Linked DNA regions of Homo sapiens. The protein of the gene in region 2 interacts with the protein of the main gene of each other region in a pairwise test. Each region holds a gene or a part of one and is shown on either strand. Other genes may lie near its edges.

Evidence for each region.
Region 1: the proteins of TNKS2 (region 2) and SH3BP5 interact in a two-hybrid assay, tested with the Homo sapiens proteins (one large-scale study listed by IntAct).
Region 3: the proteins of TNKS2 (region 2) and FBLN2 interact in a two-hybrid assay, tested with the Homo sapiens proteins (one study listed by IntAct).

What each region holds. Positions count from the first base shown.
Region 1 is NC_000003.12:15,322,484-15,326,132, forward strand, and holds part of SH3BP5 (SH3 domain-binding protein 5), read right to left. Parts: intron 1-3,649. UniProt on the Homo sapiens protein: Functions as a guanine nucleotide exchange factor (GEF) with specificity for RAB11A and RAB25. Inhibits the auto- and transphosphorylation activity of BTK. Plays a negative regulatory role in BTK-related cytoplasmic signaling in B-cells.
Region 2 is NC_000010.11:91,857,329-91,860,977, forward strand, and holds part of TNKS2 (poly [ADP-ribose] polymerase tankyrase-2), read left to right. Parts: intron 1-96; coding exon 97-202; intron 203-2,133; coding exon 2,134-2,320; intron 2,321-3,649. UniProt on the Homo sapiens protein: Poly-ADP-ribosyltransferase involved in various processes such as Wnt signaling pathway, telomere length and vesicle trafficking.
Region 3 is NC_000003.12:13,566,031-13,569,679, reverse strand, and holds part of FBLN2 (fibulin-2 isoform a precursor), read right to left. Parts: intron 941-3,649; exon of another isoform or gene 600-940; intron 1-599. UniProt on the Homo sapiens protein: Its binding to fibronectin and some other ligands is calcium dependent. May act as an adapter that mediates the interaction between FBN1 and ELN.

The DNA.
Region 1 (3,649 bases), on a different chromosome or scaffold from region 2:
GAGAACACAAGGTTGTGTTTTACCAGTGTCACAACTGTCCTCACGGTCAGTCTGTCCAAGAACAGCCTGGGAGGCCGGGTGTGGCGGCTCATGCCTGTAATCCCAACACTTTGGGAAGCCGAGGCAGGAGGACTGCTTGAGCCCAGGAGTTTGAGACCAGCCTGGGCAACAAGGAGAGACCCCATCTCTACAAAAACAAAAATTAGCCAGGCGTGGTGGCGCACTCCTGTAGTCCCAGCTACTTGGGAGACTGAGGTGGGAGGATCACTTGAGCCCAGGAGTTCGAGGCTCCAGGGAGCTATGATTGTGCCACTGCACCCTACCCTGGGCAACAGAGACCAACACTGTCTCAGGAAAAAACAAAAACAAAGCGGGAGGCCGGGCGCAGTAGCTCACGCCTGTAATACTAGCACTTTGGGAGGCTGCAGTAGGCGAATCATTTGAGGTCAGGAGTTGACCAGCCTGACCAACATGGCAAAACCCGGTCTCTACCAAAAACACAAAAATTAGCCGGGTGTGGTGGCACATGCCTGTAATCCCAGCTACTCGGGAGGCTAAGGCACGAAAATCGCTTGAACCTGGGAGGCAGTGGTTGCAGTGGCAGAGATCACATCATTGCACTCCGGTTTTTGAGACCCTGTCTCAAATAAATAAATAAATAAATAAATAAATAAATAAATAAAGCAGGGCTCACTCAGGGAAACTAATTTTCACATTACAGCAGGCAGGCCACAGCGCAACGCCCTGCTGATCCAGTGACTACAAAGTCCATCCCGCTGTAATCCTGGCCTGTATGAGCCCTCCCTCTGACCCCCTTCCCAGTGCCAATCTGACAAAGAAAGGTCATGGCAGGACCTGGGGGAAGAGAACAACAGAGCCACTGCCAGGCCCCATGGCCAGTTTGGCCCCAGTGGACATCTCATTGGAACCTTCTCTGTTTGCAGCGCCCAGCGGGTCTCAGCCCTCCCTGCCAGCCAAGCACACAGGGGGCCCTCTTGTCCACTCAGGCTGGGCAGCTCTCAAAGCACTCTCTCACACAGCATCCCTTACCATCCTCCAGGCTACCCAGGGATGTAGGCAAGAATTGCAGCCCCCAGATTCAAAGACAAAGAGACTGAGGCTTCCATGTGCCAAGTATCCCTAGAAGTCAGCAGACCTCTGATTTCAGCCTGTATCACCTGATGTCAAGACAGCTGTCTTCCCTCCACCTGCCCTTCCCCACGGCTTTGGGTTTTGGTTATTTCACAGCAAAAACTGAGACACAATCCCATTTTAAAGAAGAAGAAATTGAGGCACAGAAATTACATAATCTGCCAGAGGTCCCACAGCTATGAAGAGGGAGCTGGGATTCAATGCCAGGCGGTCTGGCTCCAGAGGCCAAGCTTTGCCGGCTGTCCTATAGCTAAGTCACTCTACAAGTTTCAAATGTTTCTCCACTCACCTACTTCCCCAAAGGGAAATAAGCAGTATGGGGGGACCACTGAAGCCCAAGGCCTTCAGTACCACCATTCTGATGGCCAAACTTCAAGTCAGAGCTATGGGGGCAGTGCAGCAGCCCTGGCTCAGGCTACCCTGAAGAGACGCAAAGACCACACATGTGTTTTTTCTTTATAATCAACCAATCACCAAAGGTCCTGTTAACACTCCACCTCTCCCCACCCCAACCTTCCTCAACCTGCAGACAATGTCTGTACCGTCAGCTCTCTTCCTCCTCCACTTTAAGGCTGATGTTATCTCTTCAGACTATCTGGGGTCTGCAGGCCTCAACTCTGATGCCCCCTATTTCAACAAAGCTTTGGCCTCTCAAAGGGCCCTGAGTGACTCTCCTAGAATCCCCCTCACCCCACTACAATTGCTTGCTTGAATCCAGGAGACGGCAAGCTCCATGAGGCAGGGACGTGCCTGATTATTTGTTGACCACCCTGGTCCCCAGTGCCCCACACAGGATTTGCTGCAGGAAGGCCTCCAGGCCAATGTTTACTTCAACCAGATCTCACCTGTGTACAAGAAGGTCAGGGGTGTAGGGGCTCTGCCAGCTTAGACCGGGCAGCCTGCCACCAGGCCTGGAATCTGGTGCAGCTTCAAGAAACAGTTACTCCTCCCTCCCCCGGTCTATCTATGCTTCAAACATTCCCTAGCAGTTTCTTCGAAGCACAACTGAGTCTTACAGGACCTAGTCCCTAGTGCATTCCACCCACACGTTTTAATGGAGAAAGTGCTGGGACGTATCACTGTCCTTTGATAGAGGAATTTTTCTCCTGATTTGTGCTAATAATTCATGAGGGAGGGGCCGGGCAGCTTCCAGTTTACTCTCACCTCCAAGTTTCTAAGCTCAAAACAGAGTTTTTGTTTGTACCATTGCTCCTTGGGTCCAAAAAAAAAAAAAAAAAGTTTTAAGAGAAAACATTTGCTGGTTTTCAGAGGGAGGAAAGGCAGAGATAATGAGTGCTGGCTTAAGCATGTTTGAGGAACACAGATACTCAGAAACAAAGATTTTTCAAACCACCCTGCAAGTATAAGCAGAAACTATTCCCACCTGACCTGAGCAATGAGGAAAAGGACGGACCCCTTCACAGCCCTGGAACAGCCCACTTTCAGAGCAAGCACGGGAAATGATGAAAACATTACAAATTGTGCTTAAAACCACATAAACATGGGCATAAAATATTACAAATCTTTATTCTGATTAGACTTAGAAATTCTCAGTGTGGCTTCTGTTTTAACAAACATTTGAAAAGAGACAGACCTATAAAATAGGCATTTAAAAATTACATCAGCATATTGAGTTTTACTATCTCACCTAGCAGGGCTGTCGCACACCTGAATGACCCATTTATCTCTGACTCACTGCCTCCTCTTCCATCCATTACTCGCCCATGCCTGGCACAAGGCCCCCTTGCTGGCCCTCAGCTAAGCCAGGCTTAGCCCTGATGCGCCCTCCAGCTGGAATGTTCTTCCCCCACATGGCCTGAGGCTTGCTCACTCTCTCCAGACAATACTGCATTCCTCTCCCTCCCCTTGCCTCCAAACACCCACCAGCTGAGTCCCCTTCCAGCTCTTTGCCTCCTTTGTATACATCAGATAACCTACCATGTGTATTTTAACTTTTTATTGCGTTTTCCACCCCCTCTGCAATGTAAGCCTCAGAAAAGCAGGGACTTCTGTCCATTCTCTTCACTGCTCTGTCCCCATCACCGAAAATTGCCCCCATCACGTAGTAGGTGCTCAATAAATACTTAGTGAATTAAAAAGCTGGTCAGGCGCAGTGGCTCACACCTGTAATCCCAGCATTTTGTGAGGCCAAGGGAGGCAGATCGCTCTCAGCTCCAGAGTTTGAAACCGGCCTGGCCAACATTGCAAAACCCATCTTTCCTAAAAATACAAAAATTAGCCAGCGTGGTGGTGTGAGCCTTTGGTCCTGGCTACTTGGGAGGCTGAAGCTGGAGAATCGCTTGAACCCGGGAGGCTGAGGCTGCAGTGAGCCGAGATTGTGACACTGCACTCCAGCCTGAGTGACAGAGCAAGACCCTGTCTCAATAAATAAATAAAGCTGACTGATCAATGGATCTGTGGGAAAATGCTTATTTTCCTAACTTAAAACATCAGGCTTATATCCAAGGGCTCTCTGGTTAAAAGGTTCCTCCTTTTA
Region 2 (3,649 bases):
TACCTTCTAGCTAAATGTATGTCCCATGTTTGGTTTAGATGAAGAAGTCAGTAAGTAATTCCTAAAGATTTGATTTTTCTGGTTTATTTTTTATAGATTCAGAAGGTTTGTAACAAGAAACTATGGGAAAGATACACTCACCGGAGAAAAGAAGTTTCTGAAGAAAACCACAACCATGCCAATGAACGAATGCTATTTCATGGTAAGATTCCTCCCCACCAACTCTACCACTGTCTTCCACATTAGGATAGTTTTTTTGTTCAGATATGAAATAATAATAAGCCTGTATATTCTTTATGTCAGTATTTTAAGATAAACCTACTATTTCTGTAACTTTCACATTTATATTTTCAACTTCTTTTGAATTTGTGTATTTTATAATGGATTGTTTTTAAATAAGATTACCACAATAAAAATAGAAATGAGAGTGTTGACTATCTTTTCCTTTTTTCTTTAAATAGTAAATTTTGCTTATGGTCACTCTAGGAAATTTTGTGTTTTCCATTTAACTAGTTGATTGAATTAAAAATAAGACCTGGGAATCACCTCAGAAGAAGGTGTACATCCTATTCTGATTTTGATTCTAAGTATCAAACCCACACAATTTGAAAAGAGCCATTGTTATTGAACCTGTAGAGGTTTCTGATGACTGTAGAATTGAAACCATAGAATTGAATTGAAAGCACAATTACTTATTCTTCTTGGAATTTTCTACTTTTTTTGTATTATAAGCTGGCAGGTGTTGATTAGTCTTTCAAATTTTAGCAAAGTTAAACATATTAATGTAGTATTTATGAGGGCTTCAAGTACATTACCCATAGTAGTTCCAGTCTGTTTCTTCATTTGTCCTTGATTGCAGAAAAATTTTAGAGACCTGTAAAGTTCTCTAAAACACAGTAAATTTCATAATACCCTGGGAGAATGGCTGTAACAGAATGGATTCATGTGCAGAATCTAAACATGTTGCACTCCTTATTCCAAAACCCTAAATAATTATCATGATAATCTCTTGACACAGAGCATATTTATTTATCTGTTAATTGATGGTTATAATATGGTTTTTCTAATTTGTAATATAAATAATTTTGGTTTTCCCAAGTTAATTCAAAAAATGATTCTATTCATCTGTATTTCTGTAAAGTAGAATTCAGTATATTTTCCTGTCTGTCTGTGGAAAGGGAATGTGATCTTGATAAATGAATTAGCTGTGGTTTTTTGACTTTTTCCATCCCCCACTCTACTCCACTCCCAAGGAAAGAGGAGAGAGAAGTCAATGTGCAGGGGGTGAGGGAAAGCACCACATTTGCAGATAGAATCTTGTATCGTAATTAATGAAAGGCAGAAGTGGAAGGATAGAAGAGAAGAGGTATAAGAAAGAGAATAAGAATGTGAAAGTTGGGCCGGGTGCGGTGGCTCACGCCTGTAATCCCAACACTTTGGGAGGCCAAGGTGAGTGGATCACCTGAGGTCAGGAGTTTGAGACCAGCCTGACCAATATGTTGAAACCCTGTCTCTACTAAAAATACAAAAGTTAGCCAGGCATGGTGGTGTGCACCTATAGTCCCAGCTACTCAGGAGGCTGAGACAGGAGAATTGCTTGAACCCGGGAGGCAGAGGTTGCAGTGAGCCAAGATCATGCCACTGCACTCCAGCCTGGGCCACAGAGCGAGACTACATCTCAAAAAAATTTAAAAAAAAAAAGAATGTGAAAGTCTACTTGGGCCACTTGGTATCTTCAAAAAAGCACACAGGCATAGGCATCATTCTAAGACCTAATTGCATTTAGCTTTGCTATCTAAAGTGAATTATGAGCCTCTTGGTTTTAGATTTTTATGGATTTGCAGTCTGGCATTTGGTAACTCTTACACTGATATTTCAAGTACTCTGTTTTTCTAGTTCAATCTGTGTCCTTATTTTAGCACATAAACCAGCACTCTGTTAGAAACATTAGTTGATGTTAGCAGTTCTTTATTCTAAAATAGCTGGCTGACAGTTAACTTGTTACCCTTTTTCGTTTTGGCTTTATTATGGTTGGGCTATATATTTAAGAATTCAGTTTCTAAGAAACTAGTTTTTTACTTTTTATTCTAAGATAAATTTTAAATTATTGTTACCCATCTATATGTGTTTCAGGGTCTCCTTTTGTGAATGCAATTATCCACAAAGGCTTTGATGAAAGGCATGCGTACATAGGTGGTATGTTTGGAGCTGGCATTTATTTTGCTGAAAACTCTTCCAAAAGCAATCAATATGTATATGGAATTGGAGGAGGTACTGGGTGTCCAGTTCACAAAGACAGATCTTGTTACATTTGCCACAGGTAAGAGATCACTTGTTCTCATTTATTTTGGTGGTAATCAGATAAGAACTAGTTGCATTTTTGAGGGCAAAGCATTATGTTGGACAGTCTTAGGAATGCAAGCTAGGCATGTTTTAGATTGCTTTTGGCCCTCTCACCAATTGTAATAATAGCTAATATTTATTAAATGATCCGTATGGGCCAATTATAATTTAAGCACTTGACCTGTTTGGCTAATTTAATCATTAGAATATCTGGTGCCTTAAAGCATACTGAGTAGAAAGTAACATTAGGCATGAAAGAGGCTTTATTGTAGCCCTTGAGTATTGTAGGACTCTGTGGACTCTAAAAATCTAGTATTCAAATGCTAAAATGGCATTATTTGTCAAATCTAATTATTTGATGGCAGTGCCTGAGCCTCTCTTCCACTGTGATACGATCCTAATCCTCAATTTGCAATATTACTATAAGAACTTGAAATTAAAACATTGATCCTTTTTGAAAGGAAATAATAATCAAATAACTACTTTGCACTTTTTTTTTCCACTTTTAATTACCTGTTCTAACTCACTTGTTAAAAATCATTTAAGTAACTTGTCCCTAACTTATAAAATCCTTATAGGCAAAAAGTAATGCCACTTGAAAAATCCAGTAAGATTAATTCCTGAGATTTATTCGACAGTTAGGGCACTGCTTATTGAATATACAGAGCAGTAGTTTATCAAGCATTAGCATGCATTAGAGTCACCTAGATGGCTTGTTTAAATCACAGATTCTTAGGCTCCACCTTCTCAGTTGCTGATTTAGTAGATCTGGGATGAGACTCTAGAATTTGAGTTTCTACCAAGTTCCCAGATGTGACACTGTATTTCTGACCACTGATCTAGAAAAAAACCCCTAGAGCAGTACTTTGCACTTTGGCAGCACATTGGAATCACCCAGGGAATATTAAAAAACTATTAATGCCTGTGTCCCACCCTCACAGAATCTCTTTTAATTGGTCTGGGGCATGATCTGGATATTAGAATTTTTAAAAGCTTCCCAGTTGATTTCAAAGGGCTTCCGAGCTGAAGAATTGCAGTCATGGAGGGAAACAGGTTCTTTCTTTGTGTTTGTTTTGTTCTTACTGTTACCCCTCTAAATTTAGGCCTGCATAGGTAGTACACAGTAGGCCCTCCTATGTATGACGTCCCACTCACTTCTATTTTAGATCATAAATTGGAGTGGTTAGGAGGCATGTAATTTCCTGTAAATTGAACACTGCTGTTTTTATTTGTCATATATGGTCTGAAGGCTAAATAGTTCTGATTATTAGTAATAAGCAGCATTCTAATACCTCCCTCTTCTTTG
Region 3 (3,649 bases), on a different chromosome or scaffold from region 2:
AGGAACACACCTCTGAGACCCTCGGGACTGCAGGCTTAGCCCCAGGGGACGCTCCTGTCCCCCTCCCCAGTAGCACTGGCAAATGCATCCTGATGCCTTGCTGTCCCTAACACCCCACCAACTCCCCCAGTCATGTCCATTCTCCCCGCAATCTGTCTCCACTCCCTCCCCACGGTCTCTACCCCTTCCTTCCATCTCTAGGCCCTGTCCCCACTCCAGTCTCAGCTCTGATCTCCACTGGAACAGCCCCGCCACCTCCCTGCCCACCACTCCTCCCCTTTCCCAGGGAACCCAGTCTGGCCTGAGAGCAGCTGGCCCCGACATGCCACGGCCCCACAGCCCGCCCCAGTTTCCCATGGCCAGAAAGGAAAGGTCTGGATTCCCAGCTGAGCCTGGCACTCAAGGCCCTGCAGGAGCCATCCCAACCCGACCCTCCCACAGGCCCTTAGGCCTGAACTCCCCCAAGGGCTCTTCTCCCCTCTCATCTTGCACAAGCCACTCAAATGCCACCTTCTCACCAGTCCTCATGCCTCCTCCCTCCTCCACCCTGGCCCAAGTCCCCAGTGCCTGTAGCCCCACTTGTGACCCAGTGGCCGTACCTGACTCTTATAGACAGCGTGCTCCCCAAAGTCACAGGCAAGAGCTCCTTCTCCGACTCCCAGCCTAAAGCGCAGCCCCATAGGGCAGTGACAGAGGGACAGCAGGACTCGTTACCACAGCAGTGGTCCCCAAGCCTGCCCCATTTCTAAAGGAACGCCTCCTCTGCACCCAGCCCCTCTAGGAACCAGGGGTTTATCAGCCAGCAAGACAGGTTCCCAGCGTCCTCACAGCACTGACACCCTCAGGGGTGGAGGGGCAGATAATAAACCCAAGAGCAAATCTGTAGAGAACTGAACGCCAGGCAGGCATGAGCCCCATGATGAAATAAATGAAGGGAATCAAGGAGACGGAAGGAGGACGTGGCAGTGTCAGGGGAGCCCGTGTCAGTCCGGCGGAAGAGGAGGGCTTCTCTGAGGAGGGCGTCAGGCAGGGAGTGGCAGGGCCAAGGGGCTGAGGCCGGACCAGCAGCAGAAAGGTGAAGGACAGAGAGGGCCCCCAGGGCTGAGCCACATCAGCACACGGGTGGTAACTGCAGAGCAACGGGCTTCCAGCCTGCTGTGAGGGCCTCTGGGCGTGCCTGTAAGCGCTGGAGCCTGGGACTCTCCAGTGCAAGGGACCCACCCAGCTGCCCACTGCGCTGAGACACGGGAGCCAGCAGGGAGCAGGTGAGAGAGCCCAGGGCAGTGAGCGAAGAGAGGCAGGAGATGGTGGCACAGGGGATCTATTTTGAAGGTAGGACCCACAGGATTTGCTGATGGATAGGATGCAGCGGACAGAAGACAGAAGTCCAGGAGCGCCTGGAAGGGGGAGTTGTGTGACCGAGGCAGGGAAGGCTGCGGTGGAGGGCCATGGACGGGCAGGGAGATGGAAGCCCATGCCCAGACCAGGCTCAGGGCCGGCGGAGTGCTAGGGAGCCTCTGGGGCCTCGAGGGCTGACGCCCCTGCCCTCACACTGAGGTGCCACCTCAGGAAGCTGGAGGACTCCGTAAAGCCACTGACATTAGGAATGGGCCCCTGGGAGAATCAGGGCCTTTACTCCCAGTCAGCAAAAGCAAGGACCCTCCAGACTGCAAGGGAGAGGCCCTCAGGTCCACTCTCAACAGTTCTTTCTGTTTGTTTTTAGAGACAGGGTCTCACTCTGTTGTCCAGGCTAGAGCACAGTTGTGTGATCATAGCTCATCGCAGCCTCAACCTCCCGAGCTCAAGCGATCTTCCCACCTCAGCCTTCTGAGTAGGTGGAACTACAGGCACACACCACTACACCCAGCTAATTTTTTTTAACAAGGGTCTCACTGTGTTGCCCAGATTGGTCTTGAACTCTTGACCTCAAGCGACCCTCCTGCCTCAGCCTCCTACAGTGCTGGGATTACAGGCATGAGCCACCGTGCCAGCTGACAGTGTCTTTTAAGAAAGGAAATCTTTGGCCAGGCGAGGTGGCTCACGCCTGTAATCCCAGCACTTTGGGAGGCCAAGACAGGCGGATCACTTGAGGTCAGGAGTTCGAGACCAGCCTGGCCAACGTGGTGAAACCCTGTCTCTACCAGAAATACAAAAATTAGCCAGGCATGATGGCGTGTGCCTGTAATCCCAGCAACTCAGGAGGATGAGGCAGGAGAACTGCTTGAACCCCGGAGGCGGAGGTTGGAGTGAGCCGAGATCGTGCCACTGCACTCCATCCTGGGGAACAGAGGGAGACCCCGTCTCAAAACAAAAGGAAATCTTTGGTGAACTGAGACCCAAGCTCCCTGCCCTCCTGCCTTCAGGTGCATCACACACCTAGGCATGAACGTTGTGTCCTGAGAGGACAGTACCCCAGCCACAGGACACAGGGCTGTCCTAGAACTTCTTCCAGAAGAACTTCCTTCCCAGCCCACCCTGCCCCACCACCCGGTCCACCAAGTCCATCCCCTTGCTCTGCTCACCGGCACAGCCCCCAGGGTGACCTGGCCCCTTGGCCCCCCAGGCCCCCAGCATCACATTCTGTCCATGCTTAAGCAATCCCAAACCTCAGGCTTGCCCATCTCCCCACTCCAGGCCCAGGGCAATGATAAAGAACATCAGGCCCAAGCCTGACTCTGCATTTTCCACATTTGCTGCGCAACCCCAGGCACGGCCCTGGCCCTCTCTGAGCCCTGGTTCTGCATCCACCCAGTGAACGTGTTCCACCATACCTCAGGTCATAGTCGGGGGCCCACCAGCATTATCTGGCCCATAAGTGCTTTCGTTTGGCTCACACAGTGGGTTTCTCATTTTAAATTGGTTACCAGCATGCATAAATTGAAAACGTTCACATAAAAATTCAGGTTTCCAACTCCTGTTTCAAGCCACAGAGCTCTGGCCACCCTGAGATGTCACATGGGGTGTGAGCTCCCAGGTTCCCCAAGTCGTCTGGGCCCCCCCAAATGCATGCAGCTCAGAGTATCCTGGTGCTGTCTGATGGTTGTATGTCCACTCAGGAGGGGAAAGGACCATCTGGGATGTGTCGAGAGGGAGTGGCCCACGTGGTGAGGGGGCCCAGGCCCCTTGGGGTGGCTCACCTGGGAGAATAGCAGACCTCACTGTCCTCACATCTCCACAGCTGCTCCCAATGGGGCGTGTATGTGTGGGGCGGGAGGTGGGGGCATGGAGGAGATGGCAGATGTCAGCTCCAAGTGGAGAACACTCCCTCCAGGGCAGGGACTGACCAGGCTGCTGGGAAGGAGTGAGCTCCCTATCTATCGCCAGAGATAAGCAAGCAGGGCTGGGGACACTCGTACAAGAGAGAAGCAGGAGGGCACAGTCTCTACACTGCAGGGTCACAGAATCAAACATGCCCCTCCTGGGAGCTCCAGCTGAGTTTTCCCACAACCCCGGCTTCTGCAGACAGCTCCCACCCCTCAGCAACCTGAAAAAAGAAGCCCCTGGAGATGGGGTGGGGAAGGAGGCCTGACCTCCCTGCGGGGGGACAGTCCCAGCAGTCAGAGCCTGGCCAGCAAACAAAGCCCCTGGGACTGGCTGCGGTGGCCAGCCAGGCAGTCACACTGCACCAAGCCAGCCCTCCCGGGTGGGG